Regions from separate parts of the Homo sapiens genome. Here region 2 is linked to region 1. The links come from fine-mapping of genetic effects on gene expression. A gene starts in region 1. The other region holds a variant in brackets. All regions are shown on one strand. Distances are between the middles of the regions. Region 1 holds the start of TBC1D2 (TBC1 domain family member 2). Region 2 overlaps TBC1D2 (TBC1 domain family member 2).

Region 1 (11,896 bases):
GGACGAGTGCCTGGCTGCCCCTTAGCTTTGGGAGGGCAGGTTATGAGTCTGCAGCCTAGGGTTTGAATTTCAGCACTGATGTTTTCTTACTACATGACCTAGGACAGGTCTCTTGACCTCTTTGAGCCTTAGTTTCCTGGTCTATAAAATGGAAATAGCACTAACTACTCTATAAAATTATTGTGAGGATTAAATAAGATGACGCATGTAAAGTGTTGGGGCAGCAGGCATATTTCATGACAGTACACATTTATACAGGTCCTTTGTAAACTGTAGCTTACTGTGGCAACTTGCTATTCTTATTATTATAAGTCTCGTGGGTTCCCTTTGATCTTTCTTGGCTCTGCGGAGACCGTTGTTTAGGTAAAGCATAAAATAAAGTTGTAAATCCTTAAAAGCAGGAGAGAACATGCCTTGCAGATTGCTCAAGAGCAGTGACGAGACACTTTTTACCAGAAGTCTCTGACTCAAAGTCAGACATGGGTCAGGAGGTTTTCAACGACATGGGAGCGGGCCGCTGCTTCCTCAGGAAGGGTGGAGGCGGGCGAGGTGGGGCAGCCTGCTCCACGTGGCTAATCCAGGCCTTGCTGACTTGCCCAAGACACCAGAAACATCTTTCTAGGTGGGCTGGGAAGGTTTTGCCAGGCCCTGGGTCTGGGAGGAGAGTGCAGGCTTGCTGCAAGGCGAGGAAAGGTTTCAAGAGGAGAAGCTCACGTCCCTGCTTCCTGAGTCTCAGGCAGCATCCTCCTCAGGAGACTAGAACCCAGGTCATCACAGCAACTCCACCCCTTTCTCCAATGCCCACAGCAGGGGCTGGCCTGGAAGAGGCCCGCCGTGTGTGCTGAAGCAAAGCCGCACAATTAAAGAACCTGCAACAGGTTCCCCACAGCAGAAGAGGTCTGAGGATCCCAGAGCCGTTCTTCCACAATCTGCTTCTTCAAATTTCAGTTAAGACACAGGAATTCTATTATTGCAGAGGTTTCTGCTGGCCTCTAGTCTGATGCTGATCTTTGCAGCAGCATCAACCCAGGCTGCAGTTTTCTGCAAAACCAGGGTTGTCTGGCTCCCTGGCAGATGGGGAGTGGGGGCTGGAGCAGAAGCAAAGAAACCCTTCAAAAGAAACTCCAAAGAAATTACTAATGATTATTAAGAATAAAAGGAACAGTTATTATACTAGTAACAGCACCTATATATGTTTGTGTATATACTATTATGATAGTAATAGCATGGGTGTGTTCTATGCACAGACATATAGACATAGAATAACAATATTATTAGGACAACTCCCATGTATTGAGCACTTACTATGTGCCTGAGGTTATGCTAAGGGGTTTACATTCCTTTCCTCATTTAATTATAAAGTTTAGTGTATTGACTTACACATTCATTCCACAAATATCCAATGTGCCAGGCAGGACACCAGGGAGGTGACACAGGCAACCAAAAAAAAGTCCCCACCCTTAAGGGCTAGCGGGTGGAGATGGACAAGGACGGGGGTAATTATTAATAGAACACAATGGAACAGGTCTCCCTTGAAGTGTTTGAAAAAAGTGTTGAGGGCCCAGAGAGAATCCAGCTGACAAAGTCTGAGAAGGCTTCCAGGAGGAGGCTGGCAAGAAGAGAAGGCAATGCTGGAGCTTGGCCATAGAGAATAAGCAAGAATTTGCCAGGCAAAGGAGAGAGAGCAGAGACTCTGCCGAAGCATCAAGCCCAAGGTGGGGACTGGGGGAGCAGGCAGAGGTGAGATCAGGAGGGATGAGCCCTGAGTGCAGGAGTGAGGTGGTGGGTGGCATTGGATGGCAGTGACCGGGTTCAGGGTCAGGTTTAAGAAAGCTCACTCAGGCTGCAGAGAAGGGGATGGGTTCTGGCATGGCCTCCACATGGGGATACTGGAGAGGAGGCCACTGTGACTTTGAGAGATGAGGTGTGACCTGGGCAGTGGCAGCGAGAAAGGCCTGGGTCTGATGTATGGGTCAGAGGGCAAAAATGGCCAGCACAGTGATTGACTGGACTCACTGGCTGGAATTGAGGAAGGGTGGAGGGCAACTACTAGTGGGTACAAGAGGGGAAATCTACTGAGAGGAGGGAAGGGAAATGGGGAGAAGGGTTGGGGCAGATGTACTCAGCTTTGGACATGCAAAGCACCCAGGTACAGAGGTCCAGGGGGTACTTGGTAACAAGTCCTGCCCTTGCCTATTTGGCCTCCCTGTCAACTGAACATGAAGCACTTTAGACACAGTGTGGCTTTGTACTGGGACCTGATTTTCCACATTCTTGCAGGGGCAGCTGTGAGGTGGTCCATACCGATCCTAAAACCTGCCAATCATGTTCCTGGCTGCAGCATGGGGGTGGGAGGGTGTGGTCTCCTGGACTCTTCCACGTTGGGATGATCCAGGATTTGGGATCAAGAAACTTCATTTGTGAGTCATCTGGGGGAAAAGGATCCTATCTTATGGGAACACCAGCGATAAAAATAATTGATCTGGCCAGGCATGGTGGCTCATGCCTGTAATCCCAGCACTTTGGGAGGCTGAGGCGGGTAGATCACGAGGTCAGGAGTTCAAGATCAGCCTGGCCAAGATGGTGAAACCCCATCTCTACTAAAAATACAAAAATTAGCCGGGCGTGGTGGCACGTGCCTGTAATCCCAGCTGAGGCTGCCTCGGGAGGCTGAGGCAGAGAATTGCTTAAACCCGGGAGGCGGAAGTTGCAGTGAGCCGAGATTGCACCATTGCACTCCAGCCTGGGCAACAGAGTGAGACTCCATCTCAAAAAAAAAAAAAGTCACTGATCTACCCAACTCACGACACAAATCTACAACACTGCATTTTCTTATTAACCCTCCTCACAGCAATTCTGTGAAAGTTTGATTTCTTGAGGCCTTCCATAATAGTCATCACAATAGTAGCTCACAAGTATTGGGTTCTGACCATGTGCAGGCATTGTTCTAACCATTTTAGGTATATGAATTCATTTAATCCTCAAAACATCCCTAAGAAGTAGGGATAATTTATAAACCTCATCTTATGGGGAAGGAAACAAGCTCAGAAAGGTTAAACAACTTGCCTAAAGTTATATAGGACTAGGATTTGAACCCAGGCAGCCTGGCCTCAGCCCAAATTCTTGCCCTAACTAATCCTGAGTCATATCCCTGGCTCTCTGCTTCCTTAGCAGAGGGCTCCTCCCGCTCATTCCCAGCAGGAGGGTAAAGGCTTAATCACCAGAGCCCTGGGTGTGCAGGCAGGAGGGTAGCCCATTGGGTACCTAGCTCGAGGTGCAGGACGGGCCCATTCCCAGCCAGGGCGGCATCAGGGGTGGCAGGAGGTGCCGGCGGGCTGTTGTGGAATTCCCAGCGCTTCATCTGCAGCTGCTGCAGCCAGTACAGCATCGCTTGCTTGGTGGCGGCCTGAGAAGCACAAGGATTAGTTGGCAAGGCCCTGTGCCTGAAGGGTGGCACTGGGTGCAGGAAGAGGGGAAGGTTGTGGGAGGCTTAGGAATGCTTTCTTTCCCAGGAAAAAAAAAAGGGGGTCACTGTAGGTATGTATGCTTCCTGGCCACAGAAGATCATCAGGCTCTGGTCTCCCACTCAGCGGTTCCTTAGCTGCTCTGGGCCTCAGTTTCCTCATCTGTACTCTGGTGACAATAAGTCTCATTGCATAGGACAATGATGAGGATGAAATGAGACAAGGGTATCACACAGTATCTGACACACAGTAGGTGCTCAAAATGTGCTCACTGGATAGAGGAATTTGGAGGCGCTGTGAGAGGGGGAGGTGCACTGAATTCTGATATGCGTGGGGTCCTGGTACCATCACTATCTCTGTGTGACATCTCCAAGTCTTTGCTGCCTTTTGTGGAATAGGAGTAATCCTTGCCTTGGGGATGCACTGGAATCATGGATATGAATGGAGACTGGAAAGCCACATGCACATGTGACAACATGGTGGCACCTTCCAGGTGCTCTGGCCCTCCAAACAAGTTCATGGTAAATGCTGGTCATTAGTCTCCCAGCACTGGCTGGCGGTTGGTCCAAACATCCACTTTCACATCCAATAACTCCTGGATTCTTCAGGAGGGAGGCAAGGCAGGAGTGAGCACCCCTTTCTACAGATGGAGAAACTAAACCTCTGAAGTTGCCCAGGCATGTGGTGGTAGAACTAGTCCCATAACCCTGGTCTAGAAGTTGGATTTTATGGCCAGGAGATTAGTGGCTTCATAAAGAAGGCCTGAGATCAGCTGAGGTGGACTGCAGAAGATGAACAGCTCACCGGGCGTGGATGGGGATTCTCAGAGAGCTGCCTGCAATCAAGGCCACATGAGAACAACAGCGGGCTACATGGCAACAGAGGCAAACTCCCTATCTCAGGGGTTCACTGGTGTGCACTATGCAGGGGGGAGTCTGTGAAAGTGACCCTCAGGCTGTCACACAGGTATCAATAAGATAAATGATGCCCACCAGTGTTCTCTTTCCATACACTCTCTCAGAGAGACTGCAGCACCTCCCAGGTCTTCCCCATGACCTTAATGCTGATGAGCTCCAGCCGAACCCAAATACCCCATTTTATTAACTCATTTGACAAGGGTATACTGAGCATTGACATATGTGTCAGAGATAGTGCTAGGCACTGAATACAGGGGTGAGCCAACACACATGGTCCCTGTCCCCTTGGAACTTGAGAGTCTCCTGCAGGGGACATGTACCTGGATGTTCCATGGGCTCCTCATCCTGAGTTCCCTCCTGTCAGTGACTGACCCAACCAGGCAGTCAGCCAGTTACTCCAGCCACTCCTGACATCTCCCTCATTCTATTTCCCTACTATCCCGAGACACCTCCATTGTCCCCTTCCCCACAGCCACAGCTCTAGTTCAGCTGTCACTCTCTTCTGATCACCTTCTGATGGGCTCCCTGAGTACCAGCCTTGCCCTTCCCCTAGTTTCTTCTCTATCCAATAGTCAGACTGAGCTTTTGCTACTTGGCCTAATTTGCCAATTCCCCACCCTCGGGCCTCTGCTCTTCAACTCCATCCTTTGGGCCCCTCTGTTTTTCTGGCTCATGTGATTTGCCTGGACACTCAGGGCTGTATCATGGTTTCCTAATTTGCTCACGGTGCTCTCTTGGCCTGGAATACCTTTCTCCCTCTTGTCTGCTTGCCACCTATTTCTTCTTTCAAGCCTTGGGTGTGTCCCTCCTCCAGATGCCTTTCTGGCTAGCCCCTTCCACTTGGTGGAACTGACTCCTCCTGTCACCACACCTTCTTGCACAGACTTATCACATGTCTCTACAGAACATTTCAGGGTGCATGCAGGTTCTCCCTCAGTCTCTCCCACCAGACTTTAAGCTGTCAGAGAACCAGGGGTGGGGGTGCATTAGCTCCACACCCCGCCAAGCGCAGAGCCAGGAACAATGGAATACTATTATAAAGACCATGTGTTGAAGACCCTGCATACAGCAGTCAACCTGTGGAAGAGACACATAGACCCGGGAACCACATGACCTCGAAAATGCCTTCCCTGGCCAGGGATTCCTGAGTTTCATTATTTTAACCAAGTCCCCCAGCCTGGTCACCCGCCAAGTCCAGTCAGTAAAGGAGAACTGAACACGTGGGCATCCACAGATACCCACTTAGCTGGAGTTGGGGTTGGAGGGGTGGACAGATGGGGATGGGGTGGGGAAGGCTATCTCCTGGCACATTCTTCTCTGATGCCCATAGAACACTTAGCCCAGATCTGTCTTTCCAATTAAGTTATGGGACACCTCCTCTTGACATTAGCACTCTGACCTTGGTTCCATCACCTTGTGTGTGCATGTGTGCTTATGCAACAAAAAATTATTAAGTACTCCACTAGGTACCAGGCTGTATTCTAGGTGATGCAATTAATTCAACAATTTGTACATGCCTGTGATGTGTCAAATGCTTACAAACCACCTAGGTTCTGAGAGGTTAAGTAACTTGTCCAGGGTCACACAGCTAGTAAGTAGCAAATGTACAATTTGAATCCAAGCCCGTCTGATTTCAAAGAATGTGGCCTTTCTACTGCTTTAGGCTTTCTCAGTTACACATGATGATAAAACCTACCCCTTGCTGCTGATAGGAAAACAGGTTTAAGCATGCCTAGATGAACAATCTAGGCTGATCAGTGAAACCTAAGTGTTTATTTTCCTAATCCCTGCCAGTCTCTTCTCAGCATTCACTGACCTTGGCCAAAATATCAAGAAACGGGAATCAGAATCCTGGCCTTGAGAGAGGATTGCAAAGACCATATTTTGACTTACTTAGGTCCCAGGTAAGAAAGTTAAGGTAACTGCACTGTCAGGCACACCCAAAAGTAAAAGTTTTGATTCAGCACTGAGAGGTAGAAAGACTATGGGATTCCAAGCTACCCTACTCTCTAGACGCATGGACCTCGAGCCAGTCCTTTCATCTCCCTCTGACTCAGTTTCTTGATCCGTAAAATGGGTCTGTCTTCCCTGCCTTGTGGGAACCCAATGAGGAAATGGGTGGGAATGCACTTTGCAAAGCACAAAGTTCTTGGAACTGTCGTCACCGACACTCCAAATTTACTGTGTCCACCTCACACTCGCGCCCAGCCTTGCCCTGCGAAAAGGGGACCTCACGCCGCTGGAAAGGAGAAAGTCGTTGCAGGAATTTACCTTCAGGGTAATAACCCGGCTGGGAGTCTTGATTTCGAAGATCCCCTCCTCAGCGTCCGCCTTACAGTCAAACACTGCACTGGAGAGGTCGATGCTGTCCAAGGGATTGGCATCCTGAGCGGTCCGCGAGTAATACAGCTGACATTTCCTTTCGTCGTAGAAGAACCAGCGGGATTTCCAGCCCCGGATGGGCCCTTTGCCGCCGAACTTACTTAAATACCCACAGAGTTTCTTGGGGACCGCCTCCAGGGACCGGGCGCAGTCCCCCGATTCTTCCTCCGGAGGCGGCACCTGTGGATCCCTGGCAGACTCTTCGGACCCAGGGGCAGAGGAGCTGGACTCCGGGGCGTTCTCCCCAGCGCCCTCCATCGCTGCCAGCCGGAGACTGCGGAGGGACGAGGGGTCCGCGGGACCACCAGGGACAAATCTCGGAGACTCGGCGGGCAGCTTCCCAAAGGGAGACACCTGGGCGGGGGCGGGGCCGACGGCGAACCCGCCCCCAGGAAGCCACAGAGTCGGGACCGGGTGCGGTGCGCGCGCCTCAAAGATCGCAAACCCAGGTTACGGCGGCTGGCCACGCCCCTCCACCGCCAGGCCACGCCCCCGCAGCGCTCAGTCGGCTCCCTGCAAAGCCCAGCTGCTTCCGGCTTTTTCTCCGCGCCAGTCAGCCATCTTTACTGAGGGCAGCCGTGCTCCCTGGCTTCAGGTTAAAGGCGTGGTGGCACTGAGTTAGGTTAACCGCGGGCAGAGAAGCCTGTCCCTAGCTACACTTCCCTGGTAGTTCGCATAGTCACCTAGAAAGATAGTGCTTTCTTGCACCCGATGGGCTGCTTGTTCCCTCCCTGTGCCGCGCGGGGCACCCTCGGACGGCGCATCTCGCGGCCATTGGCTGAAAGGAAGACCGCTGGGAGGCCCATCTTCCGGCGTCGCCCGGGCAGCGCGGCTCCGGAGCTGTCTGCCACTCTTCTCCTGGTGTTCCTTCAGCCCCGTCAGTGACGCCGCGGACGGCCTTCTTATCCCTCGCCTGACAGCAGTGGCCTCCCCAGCTCTCTGTCCTGGCTCCTATTCGCCTCCTGACAGCGCTGGTTGTGTTGCTTGGGGCGCCCAGGCGCGGCCGCTGCGCTGCGGAAACCCATGCCACTCCTGGGTCATAGTTGGGTGCAGTACATTTATTTTTATTTTGTTATTGCTATTATTATTTTTAGAGACGGTCTGGCTCTGTCACCCAGGCTGGAGTGCAGTGGCGCGATCAGAGCTCACTGCAGTCTCCGCCTCCCGGTCTCAAGCCATCCTCCCGCCTCAGTCTCCCGAGTAGCTGAGACCGCAACTGCGCACCACCACACCCGGCTAATTTTTAAATTGTTTTTTGCAGAGAGGGGGGTCTTGAACTCCTGGCCTCAAGCGATTCTCCTGCCTCGGCCTCCTAAAGTGCTGGAATTACAGGCGAGAGCCACCGCGCCAGGCTGTTTTGTAAATAAGTAAAAGAATTTAGGGTTTGACTAACTTGCTCAACTTCTGCCTCATTTTACCTGTTTCCCCTTAAACTTCTCCCCTTCCCTCCTAAGGCGCATTTCTCCATTAGGGTTGCGGAGCCCAATTGCGTCCAGCTTTCTTTAGGAGCTTCTTTCTGCCTTTCTCTTGCCCTTTGTTCAGCCTTTCCTCTTACTTCATCGTCTCCCCCTCAGCCGTCGTTAACGAGACCCTCATGCACACTCAGTGATATTGACAAGAAGCAGGGTGGGGGTAAAGGCGAGGGCTCTAGAGTCTATTTGCATAATTTTCAGATTCCCACTCTGCAATACTGAGTGATTTGCTCAACCTAAAAATGGAGATAACACTTCTTCCTACCCACCCCCGACCCGCCGCCAGACAACTTTACGGTGAAGCTAATGAAATTTATGTTCACTTGCATGGGTCGCTGGGATTTGTAGTCTAACAGGTGGGGAGTTGCAACCAGGGAGCATTTCTCCTAAATGCCAGAGAGCTCTTCATTTGTTATAATTTACAATTTATTTTCTCATTCTAAATAACCATCGTCATACCTAATTTTGTGTTCATAATTTTGTAATTTTTTAAAAATCAGAAGGCCCTTAATGCTGTTTAATTCCAGTCCCCACAAAACCTGGATCTACACCTGTCTACCCTTAGAGTTGTTTTGATAATTAAATAAAATAATATGTGTGAAGCTCTTAGTACAGAATGTGGGACAAAATATTTCTTTTCTTTTCGAGACAGAGTTTCGCTCTTGTTGCGCAGGCTGGAGTGCAATGGCGCGATCTCGGCTCACCGTGACCTCCGCCTCCCGGATTCAAGCGATTCTCCTGCCACCGCACCCAGCCAGTTTCTTTTCTTTTCTTTTTTTTTAATTTTTTTTTTTTTTTTTTTTTTTGATACAGAGTCTCGCTCTGTCGCCCAAGCTGGAGTGCAGTGGCATGCTCTCCAATTCCCATTCTCCTGCCTCAGCCTCCCGAGTAGCTGGGATTACATACACGCGTCACCATACCCAGCTAATTTTTGTATTTTTAGTTGAGACGGGGTTTCACCATGTTGGCTAGGATGGTCTGGATCTCCTGACCTTGTGATCCACCGGCCTTGGCCTCCCAAAGTGCTGGGATTACAGGCATGAGCCACAGTGCCTGGCCCCATTCCTGATTTTTAAAACCTCTTAATAAAACAAACAGCATACCTTATTTGTTCTAGGTTTTGTAGCTAGGCAATGATAAATATTTGAAAGAATAATTATAAATATATTACGTATACCAGAAAAACTCAAGTGGTGGCCTGTTTTAAAAAACTGTGCATATGTGTATAGATGTCTCCAGCAGCAAACAAATGGAAAATATAATGGACAACATCCCTTACATAAATGACTTACATAATGAATACCTTATTGCTTTATAGTAGGATATAAGACAAACCAAATATGTCCCTGAGTGGGAAGAGTTAATATTGTAAAGATGTCACATTCCTCAAATTAATCCATACAGTTAATACATTTTCAATCAAACTCTCGATAGGCTTTTTTTTTTTTTTTTTTTTTGAGACAGAGTCTTGCTCTGTCACCCAGGCTGGAGTGCACTGGAGCGGTATCGGCTCACTGCAACCTCTGCCTCCTGGGTTTAAGCTATTCTCCTGCCTCAGCCTCCCTAGTAGCTGGGACCACAGGCAGGGCACCATGCTCAGCTAATTTTTGTATTTTCAGTAGCGATGGGGTTTCACCATGTTGGCCAGGCTGGTCTTGAATTCCTGACCTCAAGTGATCCATCCACTTCAGCCTCCCAAAGTGCTAGGATCACAGGTGTGAGCCACCATGCCTGGCCTCGATAGGCTTTAAAAAAACTTTTTATTTTTGAATAGTTTTAGAAAAAGTTACAGAGACAATGGGAGAATTTCTGTAGACCCTACACCCAGTTTCCCCTAATGTTAACATTTTGCTTAATCCTGGTATGTTTGGCAAAAATAAACATCTAACATTGGTACAAAACTATTGACAAGGCCGGGTGCGGTTGCTCACGCCTGTAATCCCAGCACTTTGGGAGGCCGAGGTGGGTGGATCACGAGGTCAGGAAATCGAGACCATCCTGGCTAACATGGTGAAACCCCGTCTCTACTAAATATACAAAAAATTAGCCGGGCGTAGTGGTGGGCGCCTATATTCCCAGCTACTCGGGAGGCTGAGGCAGGAGAATGGCGTGAACCCAGGGACGGAGCTTGCAGTAAGCCAAGATCGTGCCACTGCACTCCAGCCTGGGCAACAGAGCGAGACTCCCTCTCAAAAAAAAAAAAAAAAACTATTGACAAAACTACAGTCTTTATTTGGATTTTGTCTGTTTTGTACCAATAGCCTTTTTCTATTCCAAGATCCCATTCAAGATGCCATAGTTAGTCATCATTTTCCCTTAGTCTCCTCTGCATTGTGACGTATTTCTGTTTTTCCTTGTTTTTCATGGTCCTGACAGTTTGAAGAATACTAGTCAGGTGTTTTGTAGAATACAATCACTTTGGGTTTGTCTCATGATTTCACTGAGGTTATGTTTTGGGGAAGACTACCACAGAGGTGAGGTGCCCGTCTCATCACAACATCAGAGTACATGATATCTGCATGGTTCCTATACTGTTAAGTTGTGTAGCTTAAATTTTCTCATTTTATTTTATTTATTTTTTTGAGACAGAGTCTTGCTTTCTTGCCCAGGCTGGAGTACAGTGACACAATCTCGGCTCACTGTAGCCTCCGCCTCCCGGGTTCAAGCGGTTCTCCTGCCTCAGCTTCCCAAGTAGCTGGGGTTACAGGTGCTCGCCACCACACCCGGCTAATTTTTTGTATTTTTAGTAGAGACAGCGTTTCACCATGTTGGCCAGGTTGGTCTCGAACTCCTGACCTCAGGTGATCCACCCACCTCGGCCTCCCGAAGTGTTGGGATTACAGGCATCAGCCACCATGCCCGGCCTAAATTTTCTCATTTTAAAAGGATGTTAAGGCCGGGAGTGGTGGTTTTAATAACAAGAAAAGTTAATCACTTGGATAAGGTAGGGTCTGCCAGATTTCTCTGCTATAAAGCTGCTCCTTTTCATTTCAACACACTGTTCTTTGGAATTGGGTTGCTAAATTCAGTCCCCCCTTATAAGTAGCTCCACCTCCTGGAGGGGTTGATAGGAATTTTTGCAGCCTATTAAAATGATTCTTACATACTCTTTTTTTCCTTCCTGTCTTTCCCCCTTCCCTTTCTTTTCCATTTTTTTTTTTTTTTTTTTTTGAGACAGGGTCTTGCTCTGTTGCCCAGGTAGGCTGAAGTGCAGTGGTGCAATCATCACAGCTCACTGCAACCTTGACCTTCTGAACTCAAGCAGTCCTCCTACCTCAGCCTCCCGAGTAGCCAGGACTACAGGCACATGCCACCTCATCTGGCTAATTAAAAAAAAAAATTTTTTTTTTTTTGGTAGAGATGGCAGTCTCACTATGTTGCCCGGGCTGGTCTCAAACTCCTGGGCTTACATGATCCTCCTGCTTCGACCTCCCAAAGTGTTGGGATTACAGGCCTGAGCCACTGTGCCCAGCTTTAAGTTTTACTTTTTCAGAAGTAAACAAGTGAGAGTTGCCAACATTTTGGAGAGAAAGGACAACTAGAAAGGATTTAACCTACCAGACATTTACATTTAGTAATTTGGCCAACAAGTATTGAGTAAGCACTTTCCATCAGTCACCATTTAAAATGTTAGGGATAAGTCATGAGTGGGACAAGGTCA
Region 2 (11,896 bases), 31 kb before region 1:
CCGGGAATTCTCTTTGGGCCATGCCCATGGACTAGGCCCTGTGCTGTGTGGAAGGCAGTGGCCTGGGCATGGGAGGCCAGGTTCCGGCTGTAGCCCTGCCTCTTGCTGCCTGACCCTGGGCCAGTCCTTCTCCCTTGCCCCAGCTCAGCTGTCCCTGCCAGAAAATGAGTGGGGCAGACTAGATTTCTGAGTCTTTCCAGATCTGATATTCAAGAGGTCAGTGATCCTGTTCTCAAAACCAAAGTCTGAATAACAAGGGGCATTCCCTAAAGTTGGGTTCCTCAATCACAGGGCAGGCAGGAAACCTCAACATTCTCTGTCCTCAAACTCAAGACAATGGATATTTGATGGGTATTCTAAAAGCTAAAAACTAAGGAACACCAACTACATGCAACTCTTTCTCTTTTTTATTTTTTTTTTAATAGAGACAGTGTCTTACTCTGTTGTCCAGGCTGGAGTGCAGTGGCGTGATCACAGTTCACCACAGCCTCGAACTCCTGGGCGGCTCAAGTAATCTCCCACCTCAGCCTTCTGAGTAGCTAGGACTATGGCGGGTGCCTTCATACCTAGTGAATTTATTTTATTTTTTTTTAGAGACAGGGTCTTGCTATGTTGCCTAGGCTGGTCATGAACTCCTGGGCTTAAGCAATCCTCTAGCTTCAGCTTCCCAAGTAGCTGGGACTACAGGCACGTGCTACTGTGCCTGGCTAATTTTTTAATTTTTTGTAGAGATGAGATCTTGCTATGTTTCCCCGGCTTGTCTCTAACTCCTGGCCTCAAGTAATCCTCCTGCCACAGCCTCCCCAAATGCTGGCATTACAGGTGTGAGCCACCCATGCCTGGCCTTATGCAACCCTTTAAAGCACAAAGCACAAAACACTGGGCCTCTGAGGATCATATGCAAGTGTATTCTTGGTTAATGTGAATCACATACCCAGAGTCTCCATGTAGCTGAGCTCACTGATAAAGAAAATTCATGGCCAGGTGCGGTGGCTCACACCTGTAATCCCAGCACTTTGGGAGGCCGAGGCAGGCAGATCACGCGGTCAGGAGATCAAGACCATCCTGGCTAACATGGTGAAACCCCGTCTCTACTAAAAATACAAAAAAATTAGCCGGGCATGGTGGCGGGCACCTGTAGTCCCAGCTACTCAGGAGGCTGAGGCAGGAGAATGGCGTGAACCTGGGAGGCGGAGCTTGCAGTGAGCCGAGACCGCGCCACTGCACTCCAGGCTGGGTGACAGAGCAAGACTCCGTCTCAAAAAATAAAAATAAAAAAAAATAAAATTCCTGAATATGTAAATTCAGGGGCACACTCAGTCTCCTAGTGAGTCCATGATTACAATCAACTCTCAGGCTGTCTGGAGCCACCTGGCTGATCTAGTGTTCTTTTTTTTCCTTTGAGATGGTGTTTCACTCCTTCACCCAGGTTGGAGTGCAGTGGCACAATCTCAGCTCACTGCAACCTCCACCTCGTGGGCTCAAGCGATCCTCCCACCTCGGCCTCCAGAGTAGACGGGAACACAGGCGTGCGCCACCACAAATCTTTCTGACCCCTGTGCTGCTCTACCGGGGCTTGCACAGTGGATTCCGGCAGTATGGGTGGAGAGAAGAGGAAGCCGCCTGGCTGGGGGCAGGCAGGGTAGAAAAGCAATCAGATGGAAGCAGTTTTCCCTGCTGTGTGGAGGGCTGAGAGCTTTCTAATCATCTGGCTGCATTTGCATTGGAAAGGTTATGTTTTTCTTTTAACCCAAAAGAATCTCTGATTTCAGACTAAATAAGGGAAAAGATTCGGGAACTGGTTATGTGGGTTTTCAGTCTTTGCTGAAAGAAAGGGAAGGGAATCAGGTTTCACGTCCTTTTCCTTTATCCTTCTAACAGCCCTAGTCAAGAGGACTAGTTGGGCTATTTGACACAGAGGTGAGCTAACATGCCTAAAGTCACACAGCCAGAAAGAGGCAGAGCCAAGAGTCAAAGAGGTCAGTCTGACTTCAAAGCTTGGGTGGTGGCCACTGTTCAACACTGCCCACTGAGAGCTTTTCTCTCAAAAGCTTCCTGATTTCTTTTTTTTTCTTTCTCCATCTGCCCTCACCGAGTAGTTCTTTGATAGAGTAGCATGAGAGTTCTCAAGGTTATAAGTCTATATGTACAGTCTCGTGTGGCTTAATTATGAGGATACACTCTGAGAAATGCGTCATTAGGTGATTTCACTGTTGTGCAAACATTGTAGACTGGACGCAGACAAACCTAGGTGATTTAGCCTACTACGCACCCAGCTAGATGGTGTAGCCTATTGCTCCGAGGCTGCAGACCTGTGCACCTGTTACGGTACTGAATACCATAGGTGGCTGTCACATAATGGCATTTGTGTATCTAAACACATGTAAACATAGAAAAGGTAGCATGTTGTGCTATGATGTTATGACGGCTATGATGTCACTATGTGACAGGGATTTTTCTGCTTCATTGTAATCTTATGGGACCATCACATATGCAGCCTGTTATATGGCATCTGACTGTACATATGTGGTTGTGAGTGGCAGGGTTTGGGGCAGGACGAACTCTGGTTGTATGGCTCCCTTTACGGACAGTGGAGGCTATGAGTGCACTCCACAGCCACAGGCCTCCCAGTGGGACAGTTCCTGTCACAACCCTTTAGAGAGGAGGCTGCGGGTCACGGCAGGCAACACACTTCACATAAAGTTCCTACCTCCTGTGACATCACTGGTCCCTGTGGGGTGGGGAAGCCTAGGGAAAGATAGGGACAGAGAAGGGGAAGGAAGGGGAGGAAAGGAGGAGCAGGGATGGTGGCAGCAGCTAGAAGCGGCAGCTGAGCAGACAGACCAGACCGCAGACATGAGCTCCAGCCCAGCTCCAGCTCCTCCACTTCTTCAGCACATGACCCTGGGCAGGCTCCTTAACCTTTCTCAGCCTCAGCATTCCACATCTGTAAAGGGGGAGCACACCAGCGGCTGCCTCACCTCACAGGGCTGGCGCGAGGACTAAATGTGGCGATGCACCCACCGAGGGCAGTGCCTGGCACACAGGAAACACCCTATAAATTCTACAGATGGGAGCAGTGACTATTGGCAGCTGCAGGTCATCCGTACAGTGTGCAGGCGCAGGACTGTGGGGGGAGGGTCGTGCTGGCCCCTTAGGGCTCTCGGGTGCACTGGGATGGCACTAAGGGAGGTTGACCAGGCCAGGCCCCACACTTAGCTAGTCAGGCTTTCATCTCTCATTTGATAATCTAGAGGCACCTTCACTTTTCAGTAGCCCAGGATACCAGGGCTACTGGTTAATGGGTCAATCAAGGCCCAGGCAAACTGCACTGGGCCTTGTGGTAAAGAAAGTGAAGAAGCGTAGAGCAATATTCCCATCAACATGTGTTTCTAATGTGAATATTCTAGGATGAAGGGGTATCCCCACTCCACCTAGCAAACCCTTAGGGGTGGAGAGCGCACCTTCCCTGAGGGCTGGGACAGAGGACCGGCAGGACTGGCAGGCCCTGAGGGGAGGCCCCTACCTTCAGGTGCTCTATCTTCCCCTGCTGGCTCAGGAAGTCCCTGTTGGCAGCGTCGGGGCGCAAAGGAGACTGGTCAGGGGGGTGCGTGAAGTCCTGGGTGACCTTCTCAGAGAGCTTGCAGATGACCTGCTGCTTGGCGTGGTTCTTGTCCATAAGCAGCTGCACGTGCTGCTGTAGCTCCTGCACCTGCTGCTCCCGCAGGCTCGCTGTGTGCGCCAGGCTCTCCCGCTCCTGCTCCAGGGCCTCCACCCGCCGGCCCAGCTCCGCGATCTGCCGCACTTTGTGCCGCACCAGCTCCAGCCGGTCCTTGTCCTCAGCCGCCGCCAGGTATGCGCTGGACGCCCGCTTCTCCTGCTGGGCGGCCTCCAGTGCCTTGTGCAGGATCTTCACTAGCTCCTGGGCAGGGAGAGGGAAGAATCTTGTGAGCTCAGGGAGGGCCTGCTGGGCGCCACAGTGGGGTATATGTTATCAGTAGTTCTCCTAACAACCGTGAGAGGTGCCCAGCAGCATCCCTGCGGCATCTCATCCTGACACTCACTTTCTCCTTCTCTGTTCAAGTGACTGTTAGCTGGGCACATGGTTCCCCAGCTTAAAACTGCATCTCCCAGCCAAGCCATGGTGAGGTGTAGCCAAGTAACTATTCTGCCTAAATGGGAAATGAAAAGTGAGATGGGCAGCTTCTGGGTCCTACCTTTAAAACCACTAGATACACGCTCCTCTGGTCCAGTTCTCTTTGCTTCTGGCTGGGAAGTGGCAGGAACTAGAGTGGCCGCCTCAGACCCACAGCAGAAGGTACATGTTGAGAAAGGGCTGCCCCCCAGCTCAGAGTTGCTCACCTACCTCTGGGTTCTTTAATGTGAATGAGAAACCTCTCACTCGTTTTGGGCCACAGTGCTTTGAAACTTTTTTTTTTTGAGATAGCGTCTCCCTCTGTTACCCAGCCTGGAGTGCAGTGGCACAGACATGGCTCACTGTAGCCTCAATCTCCTGGGCTCAGCTGATCCTCCCACCTTAGCCTCTCAAGTAGCTGGGACCACAGGAACATGCCAACACACCAGGCTAATATTTGTATTTTTTTGTAGAGAAGGGGTTTTGCCATGTTGCCGGGCTGGTCTCAAACTCCTGGACTCAAATGATCTGCCCACCTTGGCCTTCCAAAGTGCTGGGATTACAGGTATGAGTCACCACACCCAGTGGAGATGTTTTTGTCACAGCAGCTGAACCCATACCCTGACATATACACATCCATTTCAGGGATGAACAAACTGAGGCCCAGCAGAGAGTAGAATGGAATTCAATCTCAATTGGCTAGATTCCAAAGCCTGTGCTCAGTAACTAAGAAAACCAGGGGTGGCAGCTATGTGGCATTACTCTTCCCTCTCATCCCTGTGGCAGACATCACTAATTAATCTCCCATACTTCTTCCTGCACAGCCTACCCTAGTTGAGGCCTCAGAATCATTCTCAATATAGCAGCCAGTCACTACCAATCAAGTTGAGTCAGGGTTAAAGAGGAAATACACTGGCAATCCCCATGTAAAGCCACACACAGAGGACCTCATTCAAGCCATTTGTGCCTAGTTACCTTCAGCCCACCAGCCGATGCCTGCAAAGCTGGTGGAAGGAACTCTAGAAAGTTCAGAAACAATAGAGCTTGATTTATTCCTCAGCAGGGGCAACTAATTCACACAGGAACTCAAGGTCTGCTCAGCTCCCTGTGCCTTTAAGCCTGTAATTTCCCCAGGGAGGGCCACGCCTGGACTCAGGCCTATCTGTCCCAAAGCAGGGATGTGAATTTGTTCTGGGCCAGGATCAGGACATCAGCAGCCAGGTCCACGTGGAACTAATACCAGGTAGGTATGACTTTCAGGCAACACTGCCCTGCTCTGTGCTTCTCATTTGGAAAAACATGGTTTCCTAGAGACATGTCAACTATACCACACCAAAGTATTAAAATGAGTGGATTGGCTGGATAGCCTTATTTGCTAAGAACAATTCTATATTGGAGGAAAACTGCCAAAAACCATGACTTTTTTGGAGAAGCTAATGACAAGACCACATTAGCCTGCATCTTCTGAAACCTTAGGACTAGTGACCATCCTTTCTCTGGTTCTCTCTTTTCCTTCCACATGCCCATCCATCCATCCAACCTTTACCAAGCACCACTCGGTGCCAGGCCAGGCCCTGAGCCAGGTGCC[G/A]TGGCCCAGAGAGGGAGTGGTGAGAGTTCCCACCTCCAAGGACTGCAAAGGCTGGTGGGAATGAACATGACCCACCACAGTGGAATGATCTACTGCAAGTCAGGGGAACAAGGGTGTTTGTGGGAAAGGCAATGACTTCTGTCTGGGGTGGAGGTTGTGGGGAATACCAGTCCAGAGCATTTAAAAGAAACTGTGAAGAATGAGAAGGGCCAGAGATGGTCGAGCAGCAGGTGGGAGATGAGGGTGGGGATGGCCCTCCAGATGTGGCCAAGCTACAGCCCCAGTAAAGACCTGGAGGAAGGAAAGAGCTACCATGGAGCTGTGGGAGCCCTGGGGTGTGGCAGGAAGTTGGGGTGAGGACAGCACAGTGATTGCAAACCAAAAGGGAATGTTTGGAACGTCCAGAATGAAGAAGTCAGCTTCTCAGGGCTCAGTGGAGAGAGATTAACATTCCTGTGGTTCCAGGAAAACTGGGGGCCTAGGCCATTTTCTGCTTCAGCTGAGATTTGGAGGTTACCTTGGATGACTGCCCAGGGAAATAACCAACAGACATCATTGTTCAGACTTGCCCTAGGAGCAGGACCAGTGGGTGTCTTTCCCTCAATTTGGGGAGTTAGTTGACTCTGAAGCTTATTTCATTACATCTAGCTGTCTCCTTCCCGCATTTGGCTCCCAGAATCTAAGACTGAGACACCAGCCCAGGAGGCTCTCCTCCCACCCCCAGAATTCTTGTACCAGAATAAAATAGGCTTAAAAGAACGGAACCAGGGCAGAGGGAGGGAGCCTCAGTAGGACTTGTAAGATGAGGAGTGAGAATGTCATGAATTCAAGAAACCTAAAGTCTGGATTATAAGCAATGTCTTAGGACCAATTCTTAAAAATAGGTTGGGCCGGGCGTGGTGGCTCACGCCTGTAATCCCAGCACTTTGGGAGGCCAAGGCGGTCGGATCACGAGGTCAGGAGATCGAGACCATCCTGGCTAACATGGTGAAACCCCGTCTCTACTAAAAATACAAAAAAATTAGCCAGGCGTGGTGGCGGGTGCCTGTAGTCCCAGCTACTCAGGAGGCTGAGGCAGAATGGTGTGAACCCGGGAGGCGGAGCTGGCAGTGAGCTGAGATCGCACCACTGCACTCTAGCCTGGGCGACAGAGCGAGACTCCATCTCAAAAAAAAAAAAAAGAAAAGAAAAGAAAAGAAAAATAGAGGGGTTGATGAAATTAAGCTTTTTGAAGTGTTTTTTTTTCTTTTCTTTTTTTTTTTTTTTTTTTTGAGACAGGGTCTCACTCTGTTGCCCAGGCTGGAGTGCAGTGGCGCAATCACGGCCCACCGCAGCCTCAACCTCCTGGGCTCAAGAGATTCTCTTGCCTCAGTCTCCCTTGTAGCTGGGACTACAGGCATGCACCACATTGCCCAGCTAATTATTTTATTTTCTGTAGAGACAGGGTCTCCCTATGTTGTTCGGGGTGGTCTTGAACTCTTGGGCTCAAGAGATCCTCCCACCTTGGCCTCCCAAAGTGTTGGGGTTATAGGTGTGAGCCACCATGCCCGGCCCAAGTGGTACTTTTAATATTTCTCAATCGAGTTGTTTGGTTCATCTCAGATTTTGATACGTGGTCATAAGTTGTCACTTTATTTAAATTTTTAAAAGCCAATAAATCATCTTTAAAAAATAATCCTTTATCTTTTTAGAGCATTGCTACTTTCATCAGTGGTGGGCCCTACAGGGGTCAGATGAAGGGGCATGGGCTTTGGAGTTGCACAGGCCTCGGTTCCCATTCTGGATCCGTGGGGGGTGTATCTAACGAGGTGACTCTAAGGAGGGTAGCTCAGGTGGCCTCTTCATTGAACCTCAGCTTTCTCATGAATGGGGCTAAAGCTTCCTCTTCTGCTCAGAACTGCCTCTAGCATGAAAGAGAAAGTGCCAAGTGTCCCTCCCCAAGCTGACATGGCCAAGGTACCTCCCAGCCCTCTTTCATGTCCTCTGAAGTTTTTGGCTGGAGTTCTAGGAAAGTAAGAGGCTATACGTTGCCCCACTGAGTTTCCTAAAAAATTACGTTCCTTTACCCAGTAATCCTGATTGAACTAAGGTGGCCCCAGAGGGCCGCAGGCAGGGTCCCAGAGGGGTTCATCATTCCCAGCCGCCAACAGATGGCCAACATCACCACAGACAACAGCCTTCCATCTGCCAGAGCAGACGGCCTTCAGGCTGGGTGGAGTTCTGTCAACTCCAAGGGTCAGTCCCCGGCCAATCAGCCATCTGGTGCTATCTCCTAGAGCCCAAACCTCTTGTGGGGCCAGTGCTGCAGGTATGGGGACAGATAATGGCTTAATGGGTATTGAAGTCAACCTGTGGTTTAATATGACACCAGGGGGTACACAGGGAGTGCATTCATTTTTTCTCAAGAGCAGTTTTGGTGCTTGTGTCTCATAGTGGGCCTCACCATGAGACTATGGAAGAGAGGAGGCAGCCCAGCCTCTAGACTTGGAGAAGGAGGTTAGGGCCCCAATCCTGGCTTTTCCAGCTGCCTGCGCATGGGCAAGTCACCCAACTCCTCTGAGCTCCTCAAATGCTGGCTTAGCCCCTGGGAGACCCTGAGCATGCAGACACTCTGAGAACCTCAGTTTCCCTTTCAGAGTAAGGGGATGAAAACTATTGTAAGGACAGAGATAACACATGGGAAGGCTCAGCACAGTCCTGGGGCCGCGCTTCATACCAGCAGTTCCCATGCTCACATCTTCTCTTCCCCACTAGATGGTGAGGTGCCCAAGGGCAGGGATTTGTCTGCAATGTGCTCTCAAGAGCATCTCGCAGTGTTTGAGATAGAAATTCCTAAAGAGTCACGAAAGCCACTGGCAATGGCCAGATCAGCTAGGATAAGACCCCAAATTCCCATGTCCTCCTGAAGTTTGAGGTAGACAGGAGGTGCCTTCCCACTAAAGAAACACAGGAAGGTACCTCGCAGGGGTAGCTCCTGGGATTCCAGGTGCCCATCTTCCCAGCTGATGAATGGGACTCTAATGAGGGTCTCAGATGGACAGCGGCTCTCCTAGCGGCATTCTGAGTGCCTGGGGGCACCACTGGGCACCCAGAAGTTGTGCTGGCTTTTTCTGTCTCACCTCTTTGGTTTCAGTATCTGGGCTACAGGTGAAACCCTAGAGTTACGGGGCTGCCATTCCTCCCTTCCTAATGTGGAATGAAGACCTAAGCTCCCTGATCACTGCTATGGCCCCACGGCACATTTCCTGAAGGCACTGATGGGCTCTCACTTCCCGCCTCGTCTCTGAGCCCCTCAGCAGGGCACCTCACTGCTTGTAGGGCAGGAAGAGATTGACATGGAGGGTAAGGAGGGCTGCAGTAATCGCCAGAACAACCAGAGCCTGCATCTGTTGGGCAGCTGCTGGGTGCCAGGTACTGGGCTTTATGAATCTGGGCACAGGTCTCTCCAGTAAACACGGCTGCAACTCCATTTACAGAAGAGGAAACTGAGGCTTAGATAGGTTAAGAAACTTGCTTAGGGCCAGAATTTGAGCCTGTGCTGTCTTATTTAAAGGCTGGTTCTTTGAATCACCCTGAAGACTGAAGTTCATTTGTGGAATGGGTTGGAGAGTAAACAAATCCACTCCTATTGCACAATAATTGGATAAACTAAATAAATCACAACTCATTCTCCTTTTGACCCTCTGTCCCAGGACACAAAGTCGAGGTTTGGTGGAAGGTTACCTGGTAGAAAAAAAATCCAGATTCTTCAATGCATCAACAACTTCCTCCTGACAATTTCCCTCTGAATATATGGGAGTTGTCAATAGCCTGGTCAACCCTTATTAATCTCCAAGAATCTTGCCTTTATTTATTGAAGAATGATGAGTCCTCCAGAGATGCAGAGCAATCAGGGGCAAACTTTCATGAAATCTAGGTTTCCTGGGGCCTTTCTACTTCATCTGACAATTTGTAATGTCTTAGAAAGAAAGGCTGTGTCAAGAGAGGCTGCCCGTATATTCAGGATTTCTTTTTCTTTCCAGGTTTGGGTTTCGGATTTAAGCTCTACTAGTCCAGGGATCAAGTAGCTGCTATGGCTCTGTTTCATGCCCTCTCAGCTCTCAGGAGCGTCCAGCAGCCTCAGAACTGGAGCACCATGATGACAGGAGGAAAAGACAGCTGGGCTGCTAAGCAGCAGCAGAGGGGACCTCACGTGTTATAACTACACATTTGGGTGTTGCTTTGTTTAATGTCTGTCTCTGCCATGAAATGCAAGCTGTAAGGGCAGAGCCTGTGTCTTTTGCTCATTGTTCTTTCCCAGCACCTGGAACACTGCATGCACATAACAGGCCCTTAATAAAAATTTGGTGAATAAACACATGAGTTAAGAACGTATGAATAAATGAGCCCCCTCCTTTGAGAACTCTAATGTCTAATCACCAGTTGCTTCACTAAATGTAACTCCTGGCCAGGCACGGTGGCTCACGCCTGTAATCCCAGCACTTTGGGAGGCTGAGGTGGGCAGATCACTTGAGGTCAGGAGTTCGAAACCAGCCTTGCCAACATGGTGAAACCTAGTCTCTAATAAAAATACTAAAAACAAAAACCAAAAAACAAAAAAAAATTAGCTGGGCATGGTGGCAGGTGCTTGTAATCCCAGCTACTTGGGAGGCTGAGGCAGGAGAATCGCTTGAACCCGGGAGGCAGAGGTTGCAGTGAGCCAAGACTGCACCACTGCACTCCAGCCTGGGTGACAGAATGAGACTCTGTCTCAAAAAAAAAAAAAAAAAAGTAACTTCTGACATGCCAGGAATGAAGCCTCTGCCGGTTCCCCTGAGATCTGCTGACAGTGGTCACTGCTTAGGGGCAGAAAAGGCAGACGAGGGGCCAAACTAGGTATAGGGAGAGCATTTTTTCTAGATTTCTTCCCACCAAAATAGGGCAGAAAAGAAAAGAAGAAATGTACAAGTTATAAGAAATATTCAGAAGGTAATAGGGCATAAGCCCCACCTCCCCAGCCTAAGTCCTCTGGAGTCAGGGCTGGAAAACAAAGCAGAAAGGGCCTCCGGGCAGCCAAAGTTCAAACACAAAAGCTTAGGCCTTCCTCTAGAGGAAAAGGAGTCTGGGCCCTCACTGGAGCCCGCCACTGCCACCACAGGTCCTACCAGGCCCCACCGTTGGGATTTATGTAACAACTGCCTAACTTAGTCGCTTTTATCACTCTAAAGAGGGGCTCCCGCCCGGAGCTGCAGCCCTCTCACATCTTTGCCCTGGGACCCTCACTACTTCATAAGGTAGCCCCTGGCTTTTAATACCATTTACTCTCTGGGATGTAGGATTTTGGAGTAGTTTTAATGTCTGTGTGTATGAGATCTGTTTTCTACAATTATTATATAGCTCTTGTAACTCTCGTAATTAACTTCTTACCATATTAAGCCCAAATATTCCTTTCACTGTTTCTGTGTTGGTCCTGGCTTAGCCCTGGGCCACACACATGCTGCTTGTTTGCTTTCTCCTGTGACAGTCTTGTGACGGTCATTCAGATATCTGTGCCCAGATATCGGCTGCCAGGTCAAAGTTCCCCCCAGTTCTATCGACAGCCCCTCCCATGACCCTGCATCCAGATCACCTGCCTCTAAATAATGTCATTTTCTGGGTAGGGGGTGAGACCATGCATGGCCCTCCAGGAGGGGTCCAAGAGACAGTTATTAGAGTAGATCTCCAGAGATACCTGCCCTTGGTGCCCTTTTGTGACTTACTTTGAGTGACATCAGGTTCTTGAGTAATCAACAGCATATTTCAACATTCTGCAGTTTGGCCTTTAAAGACCAGAGAGTAGCTGGTGCCCAGCACGGCTAATGCGTCCCATCTAGCTTATCCGAAAGGCTCCAGGAACTGGAGGGGTCCACTGGAACCTGGGGCCTCCCTGGGACCAGACCTCACCTTCTGAGACTTTAACTCCTTGGTGAGCATCAGAACCTGTTGCTCCAAGGCTGCCACTTTCTCCTGGGCAGTTCGGTTCCGTGTGATTCCTTCAGAAAAGAATGGGAAGGTGTTGTTCTGGCGCTTGGCTTTCTGAGCGAAACTGATGGTCAGAGAAGGCTTGGGTGCAGGCTTTGGAGAATCCTCTGGCTCTCTCCCTGCTCAAGAGGAGAAACGCAGAAGTTATGACTGATGACATCAGCAGTTCTCAA

What was found. PIP is the estimated chance that this variant, and not a neighbour inherited with it, causes the effect.
Region 2: its variant is fine-mapped to the expression of TBC1D2 in tibial nerve (GTEx, PIP 0.97).

The regions. Positions count from the first base shown.
Region 1 is chr9:98,248,521-98,260,416 of GRCh38, forward strand. TBC1D2 (TBC1 domain family member 2) reads right to left here and starts at 7,129. Exons shown (of 13, transcript NM_001267571.2): 1 at 6,653-7,129; 2 at 3,265-3,406. The coding sequence starts at 7,021. RefSeq lists enhancers at 1-226, 227-1,143, 7,364-7,853 and a silencer at 7,144-7,193.
Region 2 is chr9:98,217,307-98,229,202 of GRCh38, forward strand. TBC1D2 (TBC1 domain family member 2) reads right to left here. Exons shown (of 13, transcript NM_001267571.2): 5 at 11,646-11,842; 6 at 3,527-3,922. It overlaps MIR6854 (microRNA 6854), which reads right to left; the gene lies at 11,843-11,896. Among named protein-coding and RNA genes, the nearest start is that of MIR6854, 6.0 kb to the right of the region's middle. RefSeq lists a silencer at 1,461-1,755 and an enhancer at 5,364-6,563. The variant G/A (reference allele first, on the strand shown) is at 5,724.